Homo sapiens: one gene and its partners. The protein of the gene in region 4 purifies or fractionates together with the protein of the main gene of each other region. This does not show direct contact. Each region holds a gene or a part of one and is shown on either strand. Other genes may lie near its edges.

Region 1 (4,614 bases), on a different chromosome or scaffold from region 4:
AGAGGCCCAGATGCGCATGGTGGCATCCAGTGAGGTGGACACGAGGATGTCATTGGAGAGGGACCAGGCGAAGTCGGAGACACCACGGGTGTGGCCCCGTAGCACGCGAAGCACTGTGGGTGGGGCAGGCACCAGCTGGCACAGGGAGATGCTGCCGTCGAGTGAGCAGCAGGCCAGGCGGTGTCGGTCATCATTGGCGAAGCGCACCCTTGGGACTGCAATGCCAAGAAGCCATTAGTGGGAATCTGCACACTCACTGGGCACTTTTCTCTCTAAAAGGCTCTGACGTGTGTGCCTGGGGCTGGGGCCCCACTGCATGAGGAACAGTGGCCTCAGCAAAGGGCTTTCCTTGGCTGACAAAGGGAACTGTAACCCCTGAAGACCCTCTGCCAAAGCTCCCTAAGTCTTAGCAGCTCCTTTGCAGATTGCAAAAGTCTTCTGCAACATGAAAAAGTTCCTGTCTTAGCGAACACTTTATAATCAAGGTCTTGGCAATTTGCAAAACCCTTGACACTGTAGCCCACTCTGCCCTCTGCAAGGGGATTTATCATCAGCAAAGGCTTTGAACTCTTCCAAGTGACTCAGGAACCCAGGCAGCCTGCTGCAAAGGGCTCTCTCTTAGGCTTCTGAGGCCCTTTCCAGTAGACGAAGCACTGACCACTTTGCAGAGGGATTTTCAGTCTACAAAAGGCTTTATGGATGGTCATTCCTCCTTTGGAGTGTGCCAGGGGCCTTGGATTCAGAAAAGGATGCCTTGGTTGGTTGTCACAGTTTGGGCAAACGCTTGGTGATGGAACCCGCTACCCACTGGCTCACCTGCCTCATCCACGTGCTGGTCAAAAACATGATACATGCCCGCAAAGGCATAGTTCTCGCTCAGTGACGTGTCCCCGGCCATGGCCCGACTTGCCTCTGCTGCTGACGTGGGCACCACGCTGCCAGGGGGCCTGGGCCCCAATAGGAAGTGAGGGGTGACAGGAGGTAGATGCGAGAGTGTTCAGTCTGCCATTGCCCCAGGGCCCCTCTCCTCCTCGCAACCCGCCCCCCGCCTTGGCTGCCTCTGGTGCATACCTGTCCTCATAGACGGCACGGTTCATCTGCGCCTGCAGCTGGTAGGAGCCTCTGCTGACAGAACGACGGTGCCCACGGGCCCCCAGGGCCCGAGGATCATCCTCAAAGTCCTGCAAATGGAGAGGGTCAGGGTGGGTGCATCTTGCAAAAAGCCCGAGAACCTTTGAGGTGTGGAGCCCTGAAAATCTACCTAGAGTCAGATCACTTCTCACTGTGTCCCCTGCCACCACCACCGCTGCCCACTTGTACTACTGCAGTGGCTTCCTCACGAGTTCTGCTGTTCCTGCCCTCCCCCTGCTCAGCAGATACTAAAGACAGGGCTTGCTATATGTTTACTGACCTGTTTACAAAGTTTGTGTGTTTACTGGTTTACTTGGCATATTATCTTTTTGTCCTCTGCTGATGCAGAACAGTGCCCAGCAAAGAGCAGGTGCTTGATGAAAGTCAGTGGAGTGAATGTGTGCAGGCAGGGTATGCCCGGGGGTGAATGTGGCCAGAAGCTCACCTCCATGCGGTCAAGAGTAGTGCGGCTACTGCGGACGATGCTGTTGCTATAGGCACGAGCACTGCCTGGCTCGGAGAGGGGCCCGTAGCGCTGGCCCAGCAGCTGCCCCCGAAGCCTCAGGTACTGCCGACGCAGCGCTGGGGGGTGCCCAGCCTTGGCATTCTCCCGCAGCAGCTGGCTGCGCCGGCGGATATACTGCGTCCGAAACTGTGGAAACGTTGGTGTGCGGTACGCGTTGTACCTGCAGGGTCAGGATGCAGGGCAGGCAGCAGGCACAGGACAGAGGGAATCAATCAGCTCGGGGGGGGGGGTACGGCAGGAGAGTGAGGTGTGTGGCAGTGACTGGGGCCTAGGTGGTAAGAATGACTAGCAGTGGTGATGAGGGACCTCTTGGTCCTGTGGTGGGAGTGAGTCTGCAGTAATAATGAGCATGGTCATGAGGTCAGTTTGCAGACAACAGAGTCAGTCTGCTGCCGTGCTGGGGTCCCTACGGGGTGACTGGGTCAGCGCAGACAATAATTAGGGTCAGTATACCAGGGCGACAGAAATCAGACTGACATTATGGGGGTCAGCGTTGGGAGGTGATGGGGTCAGAATGGGGAAGTGATGATGTAAAAAAAAAAAAGTCTAGGGGACACCCATAGGGGATAGGATGTCACCTGCCTGAGCCCCACCTCCCTCTCACAGGTAGCCGCTTTGCGCATGCCCACATCTGACCACATTTTCCCAGCTTGCTGTTTAGAATCCTCTCCGGCGCAGCCAACTCACCGCGGGCGTGCCCGCCCCCGCTACTGCGCATGCTCACCTCCGGCATGCCCACGCAGCCGCATAAGGCAAGTTCTCCGCCCAGCCTCACTTATCGCCATTGCGCATGCACCACAGTAAGTTCTGCTCCCATGGGCTTTGACCCCACGCCTCACCTCGCGTCCACTGCTAAGACTTGCTGCCACACCGCGGCCATTCCCCGGCCTCCTCCTCTGGCGTGTCCGCCCGCGGCAGCCTGCAGGACAAGGGCCTGGAATGTGAGCGTCCCGAGCGAAGGGATCTAGTTCCGTCCCTTCCACCAGGCGACCATTGCCATAGACATCGAGTCCCTCCGCGCCGGAGATGTCACGAACTCCCCCCCGGGTGTTACCATGGTCATCACCCCAGCCCTGCCCTTCCTGGGCAGCGCCCGGGTGACACACAGCGATTCAGAACAGACACCGCCCCTCCCCAGTCGCCATAGCAACGCCCCTCCCCCGCCTAGCATTCCTTGCTTGACATTCTCCACCCATCTTGTCCCCGCCGCCCTCCGCCTTCCCTTCTCAGATCCAAGAGCATAGCCCGGGATCGGGGACCACCTCCGGGGCTGCCTCCGGTTCTTGAGGCCCCCCGGAGCGGCCCTGAGACCACTGTCGCCGGTTCCTTCTGTCTCTCCTCCCTTTCTCAGGCTCCAGGCAAGATGGCTGCCTGCTATCAGAAAGAACTGCCGAGCCCAGAGCGAATCGATAGGCATCCTTCCCAGGGCGTGGGAGTCTCGCAGGCGCATTGAGGGACATTGGCTTCAAGCCCAAGGACGGAGGCTCCACCCCTTGACTTCTACCCACTCGTTAATTGCACTTTTTGTGTATACAAGGATAATGTCCAAGGGACATAGCGTCAGGGGTGAGTTTGCTAATCATTCCCTAGAAATCAGAAGTACAACATTATAAAAAAGAGAAGAAACACGACTTTTAAAAAGTGGTGTAGGGCCGGGCGCGGTGGCTCACGCCTGTAATCCCAGCACTTAGGGAGGCCGAGGCAGGTGGATCACTTGAGGCCAGGAGTTCAAGACCAGCCTGGCCAACATGGTGAAACCCCGTCTCTACTAAAAATACAAAAATTAGCCGGGTATGGTGGCGGGCGCTTGTAGTCCCAGCTACTCGGGAGGTTGTGGCAGGAGGATTGCTTGAGCCCAGGACGCGGAGGTTGTAGTGAGCTGAGATCGCGCCACTGCACTCTAGCCTGGGCGACGGGAGTGAAACCCTGTCTCAAAAACAAAAACAAAAAAAGTGGTGTAGGCCACTTTTTAGCAGCACAATCTTGTCCAAGCAAAACTTGAATAATAGAATAAAAAATCATCATATATGCAAAGACGCCTTGAAAGTTCACCAGTTCTTGCAGTGGGCCTCTGCACACCCCTGGGATGAGTAAGGTCGGTTGTGTGTGTGTGACTGGGATGGTTGGACTTGGATGCCCCCAGACAGCTTGAGGCTTGAGTTTCTTTCTTTTTTTTTTTTTTTTTTCTTTTTGAGACGGGAGTCTCGCTCTGTCGCCCAGGCTGGAGTCCAGTGGCGCGATCTCGGCTCATTGCAAGCTCCGCCTCCTGGGTTCACGCCATTCTCCTGCCTCAGCCTCCCAAGTAGCTGGGACTACAGGCGTCCGACACCACGCCTGGCTAAATTTTTGTGTTTTTAGTAGAGAGGGGGTTTCACCGTGTTAACCAAGATGGTCTCAATCTCCTGACCTCATGATCCGCCCGCCTCGGCCTCCCAAAGTGCTGGGATTACAGGCGTGAGCCACCGAGCCCAGTCGAGGCTTGAGTTTCTAAAGACAGAAGATAGAATTAGGCAAAAGAAGCTTTGGGGTTTGGATCCAAAGAGGCTATCTGAATCATCTCTATTTCAACTTCCAGCAGGAAGCTGCTTTCAAACTGTTCATCTTAACGTTATCAGGGTAAACTTCCTGTTGGATCTTAACATCAACTGACATAAAATTCAAAGCTGTTATTTTCCACATTATTTTTATAACAAATACAATCAATTCAACAATGTTTTAAAGTCACCGAAAGATCACACTGTATTGTGTTGACTCAGCATCTCCCTTGTCCCTGTAACAAGCTTATCAGTGTCTTTTCATATTAAATACTCTTTTGTAACATGATTGATAAAGAGTAAACTCTATTTCACTGCACAAACATGTAACCTTAACAAGAACAACTAATATTTATGAGACAATGTGCTGGGTACTGTTCAAGGTATTTTATACATATATTAATCTATTTAATCTTTTTTTTT
Region 2 (4,173 bases), about 27 Mb from region 4:
TGCAATTTCATCTCTTTTTCTTGGGACCACTAATAGCAATAAGTGAGAAATTAATTTGAAAGCACTCTCTATTTCCAAGGAAGTATGCAACAAGGTGTAGCTACTAGCCTGAAGGAACTTAACAGGCTTTTAAGAAACAGAGGGGTCTTTTCCAGCAGCTAGAGAACAGGTTGGGGCACTCGTCCTGGAAGGAGCCAGGCTCTCAGGCTGTTTTAGTGAGGGGATCTCTGATCCAAATGTTAGAAATGATGACAGCTGGCACTAAGGAGCGGAGACTGGAGAAAGGTCAGAATGAGGAGGGCACAAGAGTCATGACAAAAAGTGAATTATGGAGGCCAGACAAGGATGCTGCACAAGGGAAGATAAAGGGGGGAAACAGAGTTAGGATGGGACATAGGTGGCTACACCTCAGTTAAAAAGAAGGAAGGAAGGAGCTACTGGAGAACAGCCAGTCCCCACACACCTTTTGGGGGTAGGTAGGGAGCAAGGGTTAAAAAAGAGGCTGGGAGATGCAACAATGCTTAAAATCTGGACCATCAGGCTGGAAAACTGAAGATACTAGTTTCTTTCTTCCAGTTTCTTTATGCAAAGTCTACTTATTTTTAGTTTAGAAGAGTCAGCTTGGCCTTTAATATGTGTAGCTTCTTCCTCTTTTTTTTTTTGTTTTGTTTTGTTTTTTTTTAGACAGAGTTTCACTCTTGTTGCCCAGGCTGGAGTGCAATGGCGCAATCTTGGCTCACTGCAACCTCCGCCTCCCGGGTTCAAGCAATTCTCCTGCCTCAGCCTCCTGAGTAGCTGGGATTACAGGCGCCCGCCACCACGCCCGGCTAATTTTTGTATTTTTAGTAGAGACGGGGTTTCGCCACGTTGGCCAAGCTGGTCTCAAACTCCTGACCTCAGGTGATCCACCCGCCTCAGCCTCCCAAAGTGCTGGGATTACAGGCGTGAGCCACTGCGCCCAGCCAGCTTCTTCCTCTTTTATCATTTGTAAAACTATCTTGGGACTCACATCATAAAAATTAAGTTTTTCAAACGATATTGATACTCCATTCTTCTGGAGAAAACCATCAACCCACAACTGGTTACAACTTCCTATTACTTCATTTTCCTGAAACTTCACATACTAAAGCAAGAGGAGGTTCCTGATGCGAGCAGAGATGGCTAGAATGGCACTTCCTGGCAAACCAACCTGCAGACATCCCCTGACGTGGACACGGGAGATATGGGGGGTAATTTTTCAGAGAAGGGAGAAGGACAATCCAGGTCGCTGTCCTTTTCCGTGGAGCAGAGGGGCGCCCGCAGAACCCTACTCTTCAGTTTTGCAGATGTGCTGTCCTCAAAGACATCGTCGTCTCCCATCTCGTCAGAGCAGAAGCCCATACTCCCTGCCAGCCCGCTGGAGGACTTGGCAGTGTGCAGGCGAGCAGCGCAGCTCTCCAGCTCATGGAACCTGTGCAGGCTGCTGGCGCTCAAGCCGTGCGAGAGTGAGAACAGGTACTGGAGCAGTTGCCGGCTTCGGGACGTGGCCTCACCATCCGCCTTCTCTTCCAGCAGCAGGCCGGGCCTGCCCCCCTTGCCAGCTTCCACCTCTGAGGCAGTTGAGCGACCGGCAGAAAGGCATGAAACACAAGAATGTTTGGAATTGCCAAGAGGTTTGTGGTTCAGGGTTCTTTTTTCTTTATGATGAAACCTGTTAGTTCTGAGACACGTATCTTGAGGGAGTATTAATTTCCCTTCAGAACAAGTTCTTTCCACATAGGCAAAACTTTCTGAAGTATCCTGCGCCTTCTCACCCACATCATTGAGGGACCTTGAGAACTTTAGTGTTCTTCTGGCTTTGGTATTCTTAGCAGGCTTCAAGGCCTGGGCCCATTCTGAACCAAAGGAATTTCTCTTTGACGCCTGTAATGTGTCCTTACAGATAACTGTCACAGTGAGCCCTTGTGTCAGAGAACTCTGGCAGTGAGGAGCTTTCGAGACAACAGCAGACTGCACGGAACTGTGGTGACAACACTCAGAAAACACTGCACTGGAACTGCATGCAGAACAGTGGGATAAAAGCACAGAAAGTAAAAACAATTTTAAAAGAGAATAGACATCATAGTGAAGAAATGAGACTAGCATGGGTAACTTGGTGAGCAAACCACACATAAAACTCGCCAACTGTTTAGACCAAAGGCAGATTGATTAAGCAAATGGAAATTCAAGAACCTACAGACACTAATGCTTATTTCTGGCTGCACACTGATCATGGCAGCATCTGAAGCAGAGTGTTACCTGCAGATGTCCTGGCTGGATGGCGTGATAGAAGTGCGAGAGAAGGAGGACACCGGAGCCGGAGCTGATGCTGACGGAGGACTCCCAGCCTGCAATGACAGACCTGTGGTCAGTGTTCAGGTAAGAGCCAAGGGGATTGTGTGCACTGTCTCCTGAATGGTGACAGGGAGAAACCCTAGAAATGTCTGCTGCTTCCCGCTGCTCAACGAGTAACACATATTAGATCCTTCTAAGCCTTGGCAAAACAAATCAAATATCACTATTTTTTTCTTATCTGTGGATAAAAGTGTAAGAAATGTCTAAGGCTATGGAACACCACTACTAATCTCTTGCAGGTCCAGTGGCCGTTTATTTTCTAAGCATCTAAATTGAGTTAGTTCATATATAAGTCAAAAAACGAAGTACTAGAAGGTATCATACAAATGCCAAAGAAATATGAGGCTCCAGGCCTGCTGGCACTGGCTTCCCTAGCACTCTCTCCTAGTTCCCAAGATCAACAAGGCTGGTAGATTTAAGAGCTCTCTCCCACCTCACAACCTCATACATAGTGCCAGATGCTCCCTGAGTTCCACAAAACCTCACTGCCCTGCCACAGCTCTTCACACAAAAGGGAGTCCAGACCACGTCACCATGGGGGACACCAATCCATAGCTCAACCAGGGGCTGAGGTAGAGCACAGAATGCTCCCAACAGATCTAATCTTGAAACTGTAAATTAAGAAAAATAATCAAGAAAATTTAGATTTGAAAGAAAGTACAGCAAGAGGTCATGGGATAGAACAGAGTCTCTGGGGTGGTGAATAGTCAAACTTAGAGAAAAAAATCTAGGAAGGAGAGGAAGCACTGCAGTGAGGAGAGAAATGGACAGAGAGAAATAGGGACAGTGAGTGGCACTGAGCTGAGGATGCACCACCACCGCTAGAGGGCCCCAGACTCCCACGCCAGCCTCGGATTCCCCAGGCTCCACAGCCCCACAGACCTATGCGTATTCATAAAAAAGCATTCTTCCCTCCTTAAGACAGTAAGCCTGAGTAAGAATCTGCTCCATGCAACCCCAACAGCCCCAGGAAAACAGTGCCACGAGTCTGTTATCACCAGAAAGGCCATATCACCACCCACCTTCTGCAGGCCCACCTGCATGGCCCTTGGCCCTAACTCCTTGATACAAAGGAGCTCCACCCTGGCCCACCATTCCCTGGCTGAGGCCTAGTCCCCACTCTTTCTAAGTACCATCCCCAAGGGTGCACTCTCATCCTGGAACTCCACCTTTGGGACCCCCGACCCTTGGTCAACCACCAGAACAGATAAGGCCATTGCCTGGAAACTCCTCCTCCCCCTACCCCTCACAGCAAATGAAGCAGCCTGGAGAGAGCCAGGATGGCACTCGGATTAAGGCACCCATCGCATGGCTGCTCCCACTCCCAGTGCAGAGATTCAACAGCACTTTAATGCAAGTCCACCTGAAGAAACAAGATCCAAGAAGCTCTCATCAGCATGCTTCATGTGTACACTGAGATCACGCTGTGCCACTCCATGAGCACATCTTCGAATTCACCAAAGAATCTACATTTATTTTCTAACTGAATGTGCATATGGGCATGAGGTACACGGTCTTTAAAAGCATTAGAGGTCAAAGTTCTTAGGAATCTTAAGTTTACTTGGACACATGAAAATAGCATCCTTGAAATAACCCTCCCATCACTACCTTTGTCAATATTCTTCCTGAAACAAAATGAAAGACATCTAGGGATGCCTGTGGACACTATGCTGTGACATCCCTTGCATCTTCTAGGCCTGACTGCATAAGCCATTGTCCTTTTTCTCCAACTGCCTTAGACACTGTCCCCTCTCCAGCATCCTCCTCTCGGGGCACCCATCACTGGCTCCACCTGCCCCA
Region 3 (4,173 bases), on a different chromosome or scaffold from region 4:
AAAGGAAAATGTAGAAAAACCTAAAACAGAATTCCTGGACTAGAGTGTCTACCCTTGCATCTGTCAACATTTCAATCATATGAGAGCCACTTTGAGATTAAGCAGACTTAAGCAATCTAGTTCAATAAGAAAAATTTAAAATGTTCACAGATGAGGATGTCAGACTATTTTTAAATGTGTCTAAGAAATCATTGACCTTTCTGGTAAACCAACTCTTAATAATCTACATGGTATCTTTGCGACCTTTAGATAAGGTTTAAAAGCCTTTACTCCTCAAGTCCACTAAGGTTTTTCCCAATATGCACCAATGCCTCTACAGTTACTAAAAAAACACTTTTATTCTTTGAATTATATTTATATGAATTTGTGAGTGTGAAAGGACAATTATTGCTAAAAATGTAAAATTATCCATAAACTACGGCAAAATTAAGTGAGTTCTCGTTTTTGTGTCAAAAAATAGAATGTCTCTTTATACTTCATTGCATTTCAGAATGGTTTTGAAGTGGCTTTAAAAAAGTTTTTAAGATACATTTAAATATGGAAGCAAAGAAATTGAAAAAGAAAAGCTAAAAAATTGGGTCCAAATTTAACTCTGATCTTCCTAGGATCTGATTCAAGGATGGAAACCCAATCTGTTTTGTGATTCATTGCTAGAACAAAGAGGGAGAAGTGGGAGAACCACAGGCTGAGGAAAATTTTTCCAGACAGATAGTGTCACTTCATGTATGACAACATTTCTAACAATATTCCTCACAGAAATTATAAAGGTGAGTTTTATAGGGTTAACACTGCAAATATTCTCTTCAGTTAACCCATTTATGCCTAGTGTTCCATTATTGGAACGCTAAGCTTGTGGGAGTTCTTCATATCCTGCTGTTTAAGGTCATCGCCAAGGTCTGATTTTTCACACAAAAAATTTGCTACCTCTGGCATAAAAGCAGGAATAGTATACTGGCAAAGCACAGTTTAGTACAAAGCAATTCCACAAGCGATCAAAAGGATATGAGCTCACTCATCATCTGGCCAGCCCCTCCTGCATAAGTATTTACTACTGTCAAGCTTTTGATAGGTATATATCAAGCAGAAACGTGTGGCAGTTATACAAGAACCTGGAAGTAGATACATCACACTGTGGAAGAAAAGCAGTCATGTAAGCTTTAATCACTTGCAGTGCTACCAGAAGGGCTGGCATCCTCAGGAGCCTGACTATGCTAGACTAGCTATCTGAAAAAAAAAAAAAAGTAAAAAAAAGTTTTTACTTCTATACAGATAGCCAAAGAGGTATCAGGCCTAGATTTTCATCAAAAATGGTTCTAGCAAGTTCTTACAAGGAACAACTAAATAATATGTAGGTTCTAAAGAATAATGTAATAATTAGGTCAATTAGATTTATCTATTTTCCCCCCTTGGTAGTACCTTTTAATTCCGTATTTTGGAAAAATTTCTCACTTCCAAGGCCGTGAAACTTAATGATCTTCCAAAGGGCTGAAATTCAACATATTCTTTTATAAAAAAGAACTTTCTTCAGCCTTCCTGAGAAAACCAGGATTTACAATTTTAACAATTTATGTGATTTTAGAATATCCACTTACGGGCCAGACGCCATGGCTCACATCTGTAATCCCAACACTTTGGGAGGCCGAGGCAGGCAGGTCACTTGAGGTCAGGAGTTTGAGACCAGCCTGGCCAACATAGTGAAACCCTGTCTCTACTAAAAATAAAAAAATTAGCCAAGCATGGTGGCAGGTACCTGTAATCCCAGCTACTCAGGAGGCTGAGGCAGGAGAATCGCTTGAACCCGGCAGGCAGAGATTGCAGTGAGCAGAGATCACGCCACTGCACTCCAATCTGGGCCACAAAGAGAGACTGTCTCAGAAAAAGAAAAAAAAAAAAAAAAAAAAAAAGCATATCCACTTATGGCTGTTTATTTTCCTAGTTGTACATGTGAACAAAAAATACTTTTCCAAGAAAGAAAGTCAACTTAGGAACCACAGAGGGAATCGCTGGCCCATGAGACAATGTCCTGGAGACATATTTGACGGGAAATTGGTCTAGTCATAGTTGAAGAGCAATCTCACCTCTGCACATTTATGGACAGTGTCAGGACCTACTCCACCATCGACCTCTATATCCAAAGATGGGAACTGGGTCCTCAACCAGTGAACCTAGATATATACATGAGGAAATAAGTAACTCCTAAAGTGGGTATGTTGGTGGGGGTGGGGGTGGGGGACAATCAAACAAAAAAATCCAACAGCAAATATTAGCAATTAAAACTCCAATTGTCTCACACAATAACTATACCAATACAACATATTACTGGGGAACACTTGGTTTTTAATAGCAAGCTTTGTTCTATTTGGCAAACAGCAATCTGTATTGTCTTTGCAGAGACTGTCATGTAAACAAGACAGACAAATCCTCAATAGTCAATGACAACTTCCAAGAGATCTAAAAGTTAGAGATAATAGTTTCAAAAGGAAATTTCAAGACTTCCAGGCGTGGTTGGCTGCCACCTGTAATCCCAACACTTTGGCAGACCAAGGTGGGAGGACAGCTTAAGCCCAGGAGTTCAAGACCAGCCTGGGTACGTAGTGAGACCTCCTCTCTACTAAAATGTGTAAGAATTAGCCGGGCATGGTGGTATGCACCTGTAGTCCTAGCTACTCAGGGGGCCGAGGCAGGAGGATCTCTTGAGTCCAGGAGGTCAAGGCTGCAATGAACCCTAATTGAATTACTGCATTCCAGCCCAGGTGACAGAGCAAGACTTTGTCTCAAAGAAAGAGAAAATTTCAAGATAAAGATGTAATACTTCTCTGATTTCCAAATCAGAAATCTATTACAGCATTTATTATACTGTATTAGAATGATCTGTAAGCATCCCCATCTCCTCACCTTCAGAACAGGTTATGCCTAAATATACAAGCCTTTCAATAAATGCTTACTGAATGAACACACTGTAAAAGCCTCACCCCAAAATCAAATACTTCTTTTACCTTTGGCATCATATCTTCCATGAATTTCTGCCCTCCAAACCCCGGTTCCACTGTCATAACCAAGGCCATATCTATCTGATTAGCCCATGGTGCCAAATACTCAACTGAGGTTCCTGGTTTGATGGCAAGGCCAACCTGTAACAGACACAAATATGCTATATCACATTTACAATTACTTCTGTATTATATTATTGTGGCATAGCAGGCCCAGTAGAAATATCTGTTCTTATTTTTTAAAAGTTAACAAGACTATTAAATGTAAGTATTTTCAACAAGCAGTAGCTTTCAGAAAACTTTAGTGGAATACATAAATGCTATGTGACAAAGAAGTTAAATCCTGGCATCATAGCTGAAGAACAGCTGCTTAAGTAAGGTATTCTTTACCTGCAATGGGCCCTGACTGTGCCACTGCACTTCAGCCTGGGTGACAGAGCAAGACTGTATCAAAAAAAGAGAAAATTTCCTGTTTCCCGCAAATCTTCCCAACTGAGAGTGAATGTTACAAAACACTCTCATCACGATTTCTTACCTTCATCCCATTCTCCCGAATGTCTTTAATCAAAGCCCCTGGGTTCTCAGTAGCCTCGAGATGAAAGGTGTACTGATTGGCTCCTGCTACAGCCATTGGCTTTACCCACTGTTCTGGCTTGGACACCATCATGTGCATGTCTAGAAAGAAAAGACACTTCAAAATATTACTGAAAAATACCTGGCTCATGTTATTGGAAGCCAACCTGTATGTAGTTTTTGCCACTTCTGATAAGAACTCTTTGGCCATCACACAAATCATTATTTAAATAGTTCTAATTCAGTATAGGTAGTTTCCTCTTATTTTGAAGACAAGGATTTATTTAAATTCATTTACAAAAAACACTATTTTCCCACAAAAAGCATACAGTGCTGTATATAAAAAGTTAACATCTAAAAATCAGGAAATCTAGGTCCAGGTCCAGGAAATGCCACTCTAAAAAACTTAAAGAATAAGTCATACTATCCATGCAAACTAGTTTCCTCTAGGAAAAATTAAGTGATCCTTTTCATTTATTCTTTCAATTTATCGAGCTATTGCTGCATCATTAATTATTCTAGGTCCTAGGGTTAGAGCAAAAACATGAAACTCTCCTGTCATAGGGATTACATTCTTAATGCGAGAGTCAAACAATAAACAAAATAAGTA
Region 4 (4,919 bases):
TGGATTAGGCTTGGGTACATAGTGGTGTGATAAAGTCTCTATCCTTGTGGAGTTTAAAATGTAGTTCAACTTGTTTCTCCTCCTTTATCGCTAAAATACAGATTCTAGCCATCAGTGGTGCTATGGTCACCATGAAATTCAGGCTACAGAAATTCCTTTGGAAATGTCTGATTTAGACATTTATCACTTTCAGATGTTTTAGCCATGAAAGAATCTCATGGATTTATTGAAGAAATATGCTATGGTCAAGGACAAGGTATTGGCTCTAGAAGCCAAATTACTAGTCTTTATCCTGGCTTTTTATTTGTGAGAACATGGAGAGTTGTTTCAACCCTAGGAACCTTGATTTACTCTTTAAAACAGAGAAAATGGGCTGGGCGTGGTGGCTCACGCCTGTAATCCCAGCACTTTGGGAGGCTAGAGAGTCAGATCAGTTGAAGTCAGGAGTTTGAGACCAGCCTGGCCAGCATGGTGAAACCCCGTCTCTATTAAAATTACAAAGATTAGCTGGGCCTGGTGGCACATGCCTGTAATTTTAGCTACTCGGGAGGCCAAGGCAGGAGAATCTCTTGAACCAGGAGGTGGAGGTTGCAGTGAGTCGAGATCCCACCATTCCACTCCAGTCTGGGCGACAGAGACTCAAAAAAAAAAAAAAAAAAAGAGCAGAGAAAATGATAAACAACTTGCAGGTTGTTGTGTGGTATAATGGTCATTCATTATTTTCTACTCTTTCTGGTAAAGAGTTGGTGTGTCATGGAAAGTACCTGTTCTATGTGTGTGTGTCTGTGTGTATAATTCGGTGTGAAAATTAAAGAGAAAAAAACAATAAAAAACCCTTTCCTATACTTATGTGTAAATTACCATGGTGTGCTGCAAAAAACATATGTCAAGGTGATAGAATTATTTTGACTTTCCTGTACAGTTATAAAATGACTCAGTGAGTTTGGTTAGATATCCTCGTTCTTTGAATCTATATCCTTGTCTGCTTATGATGAAAAAAAAGAAAAAAAAATAATGGCGAGGGTCTTCCAAACTCTAAAGAATATGTCAACTATGATACAAGTAGCAGTTAGCCTTATAACTAACTGTAAACACTGTCTGTGGGTTTTAAGTTTTACCTGAGCATTGGATATTAACAGACCATTAGCCCAACTTTCAAAAATATGAACCCTATGAACTTCACAACTGAAGTCAGATCTGTATGCCTGAGAGAGGTAAAATCATGTCATGAAATCAAACGGTGGCTGATGCGCCCAAATTCTGGCCTCATCCTCTAACTGGAGGACATCTGGCAGGACAGCAACTGGGCTGTGCCTTTTTTCAGTCCAGCAACATCTTCCACTCAACCCACGCCATTTGGCTGTTTCCCCATTGCCCCTGGCACCTAGCCCTCCGGTACCGGGAACTAAATATCTTTGACCATCCCGCCCGCGGGGTCTGCCTACTTAACCTGAGGCAGGTGAAAGAGCCTCACGCAGGGTTAGGAACCTCCGGGGGCGTGGCGTAGCGTAACGCAGTGTTGGGGAAACTTGCGGCTGTGGATTGGGGGACCGGAAAGGGAGGGGTGGGCCGCAGGCGCCGGACGTGACGTAAGCCGGAAGCGACTTTCCGCCGAGAAATAGGGGGCGCGTGTTTGGAAATTGATAGAAAAGATAAAGGGACCGAGCTGCTGTCAGCCTGGCTTACTGATCTGCGTCCGTTTCACCACGGATTCAGTTACTAAGCATTTTTTTCTTTTTTTGGTTCTTTGCAACGTGAGTGGCATTGGCTCAGTGATTTCCATGAGCATCTCTACCAGAAAACATTGCCTCGATGAGGTGTGGTGGAAGCCCGGCAGCCCCTTCTAATCGGCTAGGCTTGAGAAAGCGTGTACCTCTGCATTTCCGAAATTAACTCAGCGTGATCGGCAAGATTTTCCTCAGCATCTGGTGTCAAGACACTCGTCACTATTAATTCGGAAAGAAAAAAAAAAACAAAACACCGTTTTCCAGCATTTCTCTTGGTGGAGAACTAAACAACAGGAAAAATGTCTATTTTCCCTAAGATATCTTTGAGACCTGAGGTTGAAAACTATCTTAAGGAAGGCTTTATGAATAAGGAGGTAGGTCAAGTAAAGATGTTAGTTGATATTTTGCAAAAACTCAAATATTCGCACACTCGAGAGAAATAGAAATAAGTATAAAGGGAAATCTTGACAGCCGTCGTTCCTTACTACTTGTCTATCAAGTGTAAAAATACCAATATGTTTCTACAGGTATTAAAGCTTACTGAGATACGAAGTGAATAAGGTATATGTTTTAACATTTAGGAGTGGAAAAGAAGGGAAAAAAGGCATGTGCCTGTCAGGCATGGCACAAAGGGTTACAAGGATGAACAAGAAAAGGTCCCTGTCTTCAAGAACTCGAATCGAATTTTAAAAGAGCGCTGGCTCTGGCACTCAGGTGAAAAGGTTTCTGTAATTTGTTGAGTGCCTCTTAAATGCCAGCAGTTGTGCTAGGAGATTTGCATCTTTAATCTTCACAATCTTTTTTTTCTTAGAGGTTTTTCCTCTTTTAATAGACTTGAGCAGAAAACTGCTCAAGGAATTGTGTAACTGATCCAAGTTGACACAGCTATCAAGTAACTATTGAAATCTGGAGGGAAAGAGTTCAGGTGTAATGAACAAAGGTACAGCTTTTGAATCTCAGGCACATGATTTGCATTCTAGTGCTTTGTAAATTACGTGGCTTAACCTAGATTTTTCTCTTCTGTGAAAAATTGAGAATGGTTAAAAATATCTTGCCAGGTTGTTTTAGGATATTAAACGTAAGTGAATACAACTAGCATTGTTTTGGCATGTAAGTCCTCAAAAAATGTTAATTTTATTTGCTAAAGTCCTCAGTAAATGTTGATTATCTTTGATTGCAAAGCCTGTTGTCTATTCCATTTTACCATGCTGCCTCTAAGCAACTTTGTTTTTTTTCAAATCTTTAATTTTTTAGTCAAGTTAAAAATATTTTACCAGGTTGTTTTAGGATATTAAACGTAAATGAAAACAACTTGCATTGTTTTGGCATGTAAGTCTTCAAAAAATGTTAATTTTGTTTGCAATTGGCAGTGCCTGCCACAGAAGTCCTCAGTAAATGTTGATTGTCTTTTATTGCAAAGCCTGTCCTCTCTACCACTTTACCATGTTGCCTCTAAGCAACTTTGTTTTTTTTGAAATCTTTAGTTTTCTTAGTTAGAGTAACACCACTTAAATGTTACTCATTTTTGAATATGTTATTGAAGCCATGCCTTTTAGATTTGATTTCTACGTTTCATTTCCAAAGATTAGCTTGAGGTACTAGACTGTATGGAAAGAGAAAATATATTCTGTTGATTTCAAGGGACTTAAAATATAAGGCACATATTAGGAGAAGTAGGGGCATACCACAATTTTTTCAGCAGATTTTAAAATGGAGAACGTCGTTTTATAAAGAAGATCCAAACGTCTTTCTTTGACACTGCCTCTGCCTCGAGTCTCATCAGTGGTATGGTTTTACAAAATGAAAAGCTATGCCTTTGTGAAAAGTACTGAAGGGAAAGGAATATTAAGTTTTATGCCTTTTTTTTTTTTTTTTGAGACAGGGTCTCCCTCTGTTGCCCATGTTGGAGTGCAGTGACATGATCACAGCTCACTGCTGCTTCGACCTCTGGGACTCAAGTGATCCTCTCACCTCAGCCTCCCGAGTAGCTGGGACCTCAGACAGGGGCCACCACTCTGGCTAATAATATTTGTATTGTTTGTAGTGATGGGGTTTCACCATGTTGCCCAGGCTGAATGTTCAGTTTTGATAAGACTAAACCTTGAGAAAGTATGAATACTTTTAAGGCTGGTGCATGAGTAGGCTAACAAGTGGTTTGTGAAGATTCTGTAAAGCAGGGTTTAGTCAAATAGGAAGACAAAGAAATACGTTTCTTGAAAAGCTTCGGTTAATTACAAGGGAATATTGTTGAGTCTTTATACCGTCATATTTGACAGGTGTCTTTGCTACTCATCTTTTTTGGATAATATATATTTGTTACATTTAATAACACCATATTAAAAAGCTGATGTCCTAGGGGAATCTTTATATGACAGTGACTATATCAATATTACTTATTTTTTAAATATTGGTATTTTAAAAGGATACCAGCCAGTTTGCTCTTGGATATGATGTTAGCTAATTAGCTAACGTCCAACTAACTTGGATATAATGCTAGCTCTACAGAGATGCTGTAATGGTAATGCATTATAAATAGACTGAATTCCTGAATTTATGTGAATAAATGTAGCAGATACTAATATTTGGAAAATGTTCATAATGCTTTGAAGTTTAGGCAATGTTTTTCTAAGCCCTTTATTTCAGGCATTTTCTTAGGTGTTTATTACCATGTTGAAGCCCAAGAACCCCGTGAAGTATTACTATTTCCTTAGTTGCTATTAACATATAAACAATACAGCAAAATAGAATGGAGCTGAACAATTGCTAAGCGATGTTTCATTAGATGGAATTAATATATAAGGATGCTCTGCTGACTGTTTTTAATTCTCAGGAAATTTAAACATGAACTTCTTTTTAGATTGTGACTGCTTTAGGTAAACAAGAAGCAGAAAGGAAGTTTGAAACTTTGTTAAAGCACCTGTCACATCCTCCATCATTTACAACTGTCAGAGTGAATACACATTTAGCCTCAGTACAACATGTGAAAAATCTGTTACTTGATGAACTTCAGAAGGTTTGTGGAAATTTTCTGTCATTTGTACATAATTACATTTTTGCAATCTACCATGTTTTCCATTAAAATCCTATGAATGATATAATACACTTCCAGTTTTACAGATAAGGAGATTGAGGACCATGAATGGTAAATTCTTCAAAGTTATCCTAGGTGGTAATGCTAGAACTTGAACCTAG

The links.
Region 1: the proteins of NSUN6 (region 4) and WDR13 fractionate together in Homo sapiens (co-fractionation; one large-scale study listed by BioGRID). This does not show direct contact.
Region 2: the proteins of NSUN6 (region 4) and MARCHF8 purify together in Homo sapiens (affinity purification with western blotting; one study listed by BioGRID). This does not show direct contact.
Region 3: the proteins of NSUN6 (region 4) and RPE fractionate together in Homo sapiens (co-fractionation; one large-scale study listed by BioGRID). This does not show direct contact.

What each region holds. Positions count from the first base shown.
Region 1 is NC_000023.11:48,595,920-48,600,533, reverse strand, and holds the start of WDR13 (WD repeat-containing protein 13), read right to left. Parts: upstream 3,043-4,614; 5' UTR 2,920-3,042; exon of another isoform or gene 2,577-2,919; 5' UTR 2,538-2,576; coding exon 2,497-2,537; exon of another isoform or gene 1,818-2,496; coding exon 1,577-1,817; intron 1,182-1,576; coding exon 1,072-1,181; intron 948-1,071; coding exon 817-947; intron 216-816; coding exon 1-215.
Region 2 is NC_000010.11:45,461,962-45,466,134, forward strand, and holds part of MARCHF8 (E3 ubiquitin-protein ligase MARCHF8), read right to left. Parts: intron 2,398-4,173; exon of another isoform or gene 2,367-2,397; coding exon 2,278-2,366; intron 2,036-2,277; coding exon 1,190-2,035; intron 1-1,189. UniProt on the Homo sapiens protein: E3 ubiquitin-protein ligase that plays several important roles in innate immunity and adaptive immunity.
Region 3 is NC_000002.12:210,015,465-210,019,637, reverse strand, and holds part of RPE (ribulose-phosphate 3-epimerase), read right to left. Parts: intron 3,666-4,173; coding exon 3,526-3,665; intron 3,435-3,525; coding exon of another isoform or gene 3,381-3,434; intron 3,132-3,380; coding exon 2,997-3,131; intron 2,166-2,996; coding exon 2,079-2,165; intron 1,849-2,078; coding exon of another isoform or gene 1,751-1,848; intron 1,486-1,750; coding exon of another isoform or gene 1,420-1,485; exon of another isoform or gene 1,417-1,419; intron 1-1,416. UniProt on the Homo sapiens protein: Catalyzes the reversible epimerization of D-ribulose 5-phosphate to D-xylulose 5-phosphate.
Region 4 is NC_000010.11:18,648,311-18,653,229, reverse strand, and holds the start of NSUN6 (tRNA (cytosine(72)-C(5))-methyltransferase NSUN6), read left to right. Parts: upstream 1-1,642; 5' UTR 1,643-2,026; coding exon 2,027-2,101; intron 2,102-4,584; coding exon 4,585-4,740; intron 4,741-4,919. UniProt on the Homo sapiens protein: S-adenosyl-L-methionine-dependent methyltransferase that specifically methylates the C5 position of cytosine 72 in tRNA(Thr)(TGT) and tRNA(Cys)(GCA). In vitro also methylates tRNA(Thr)(AGT).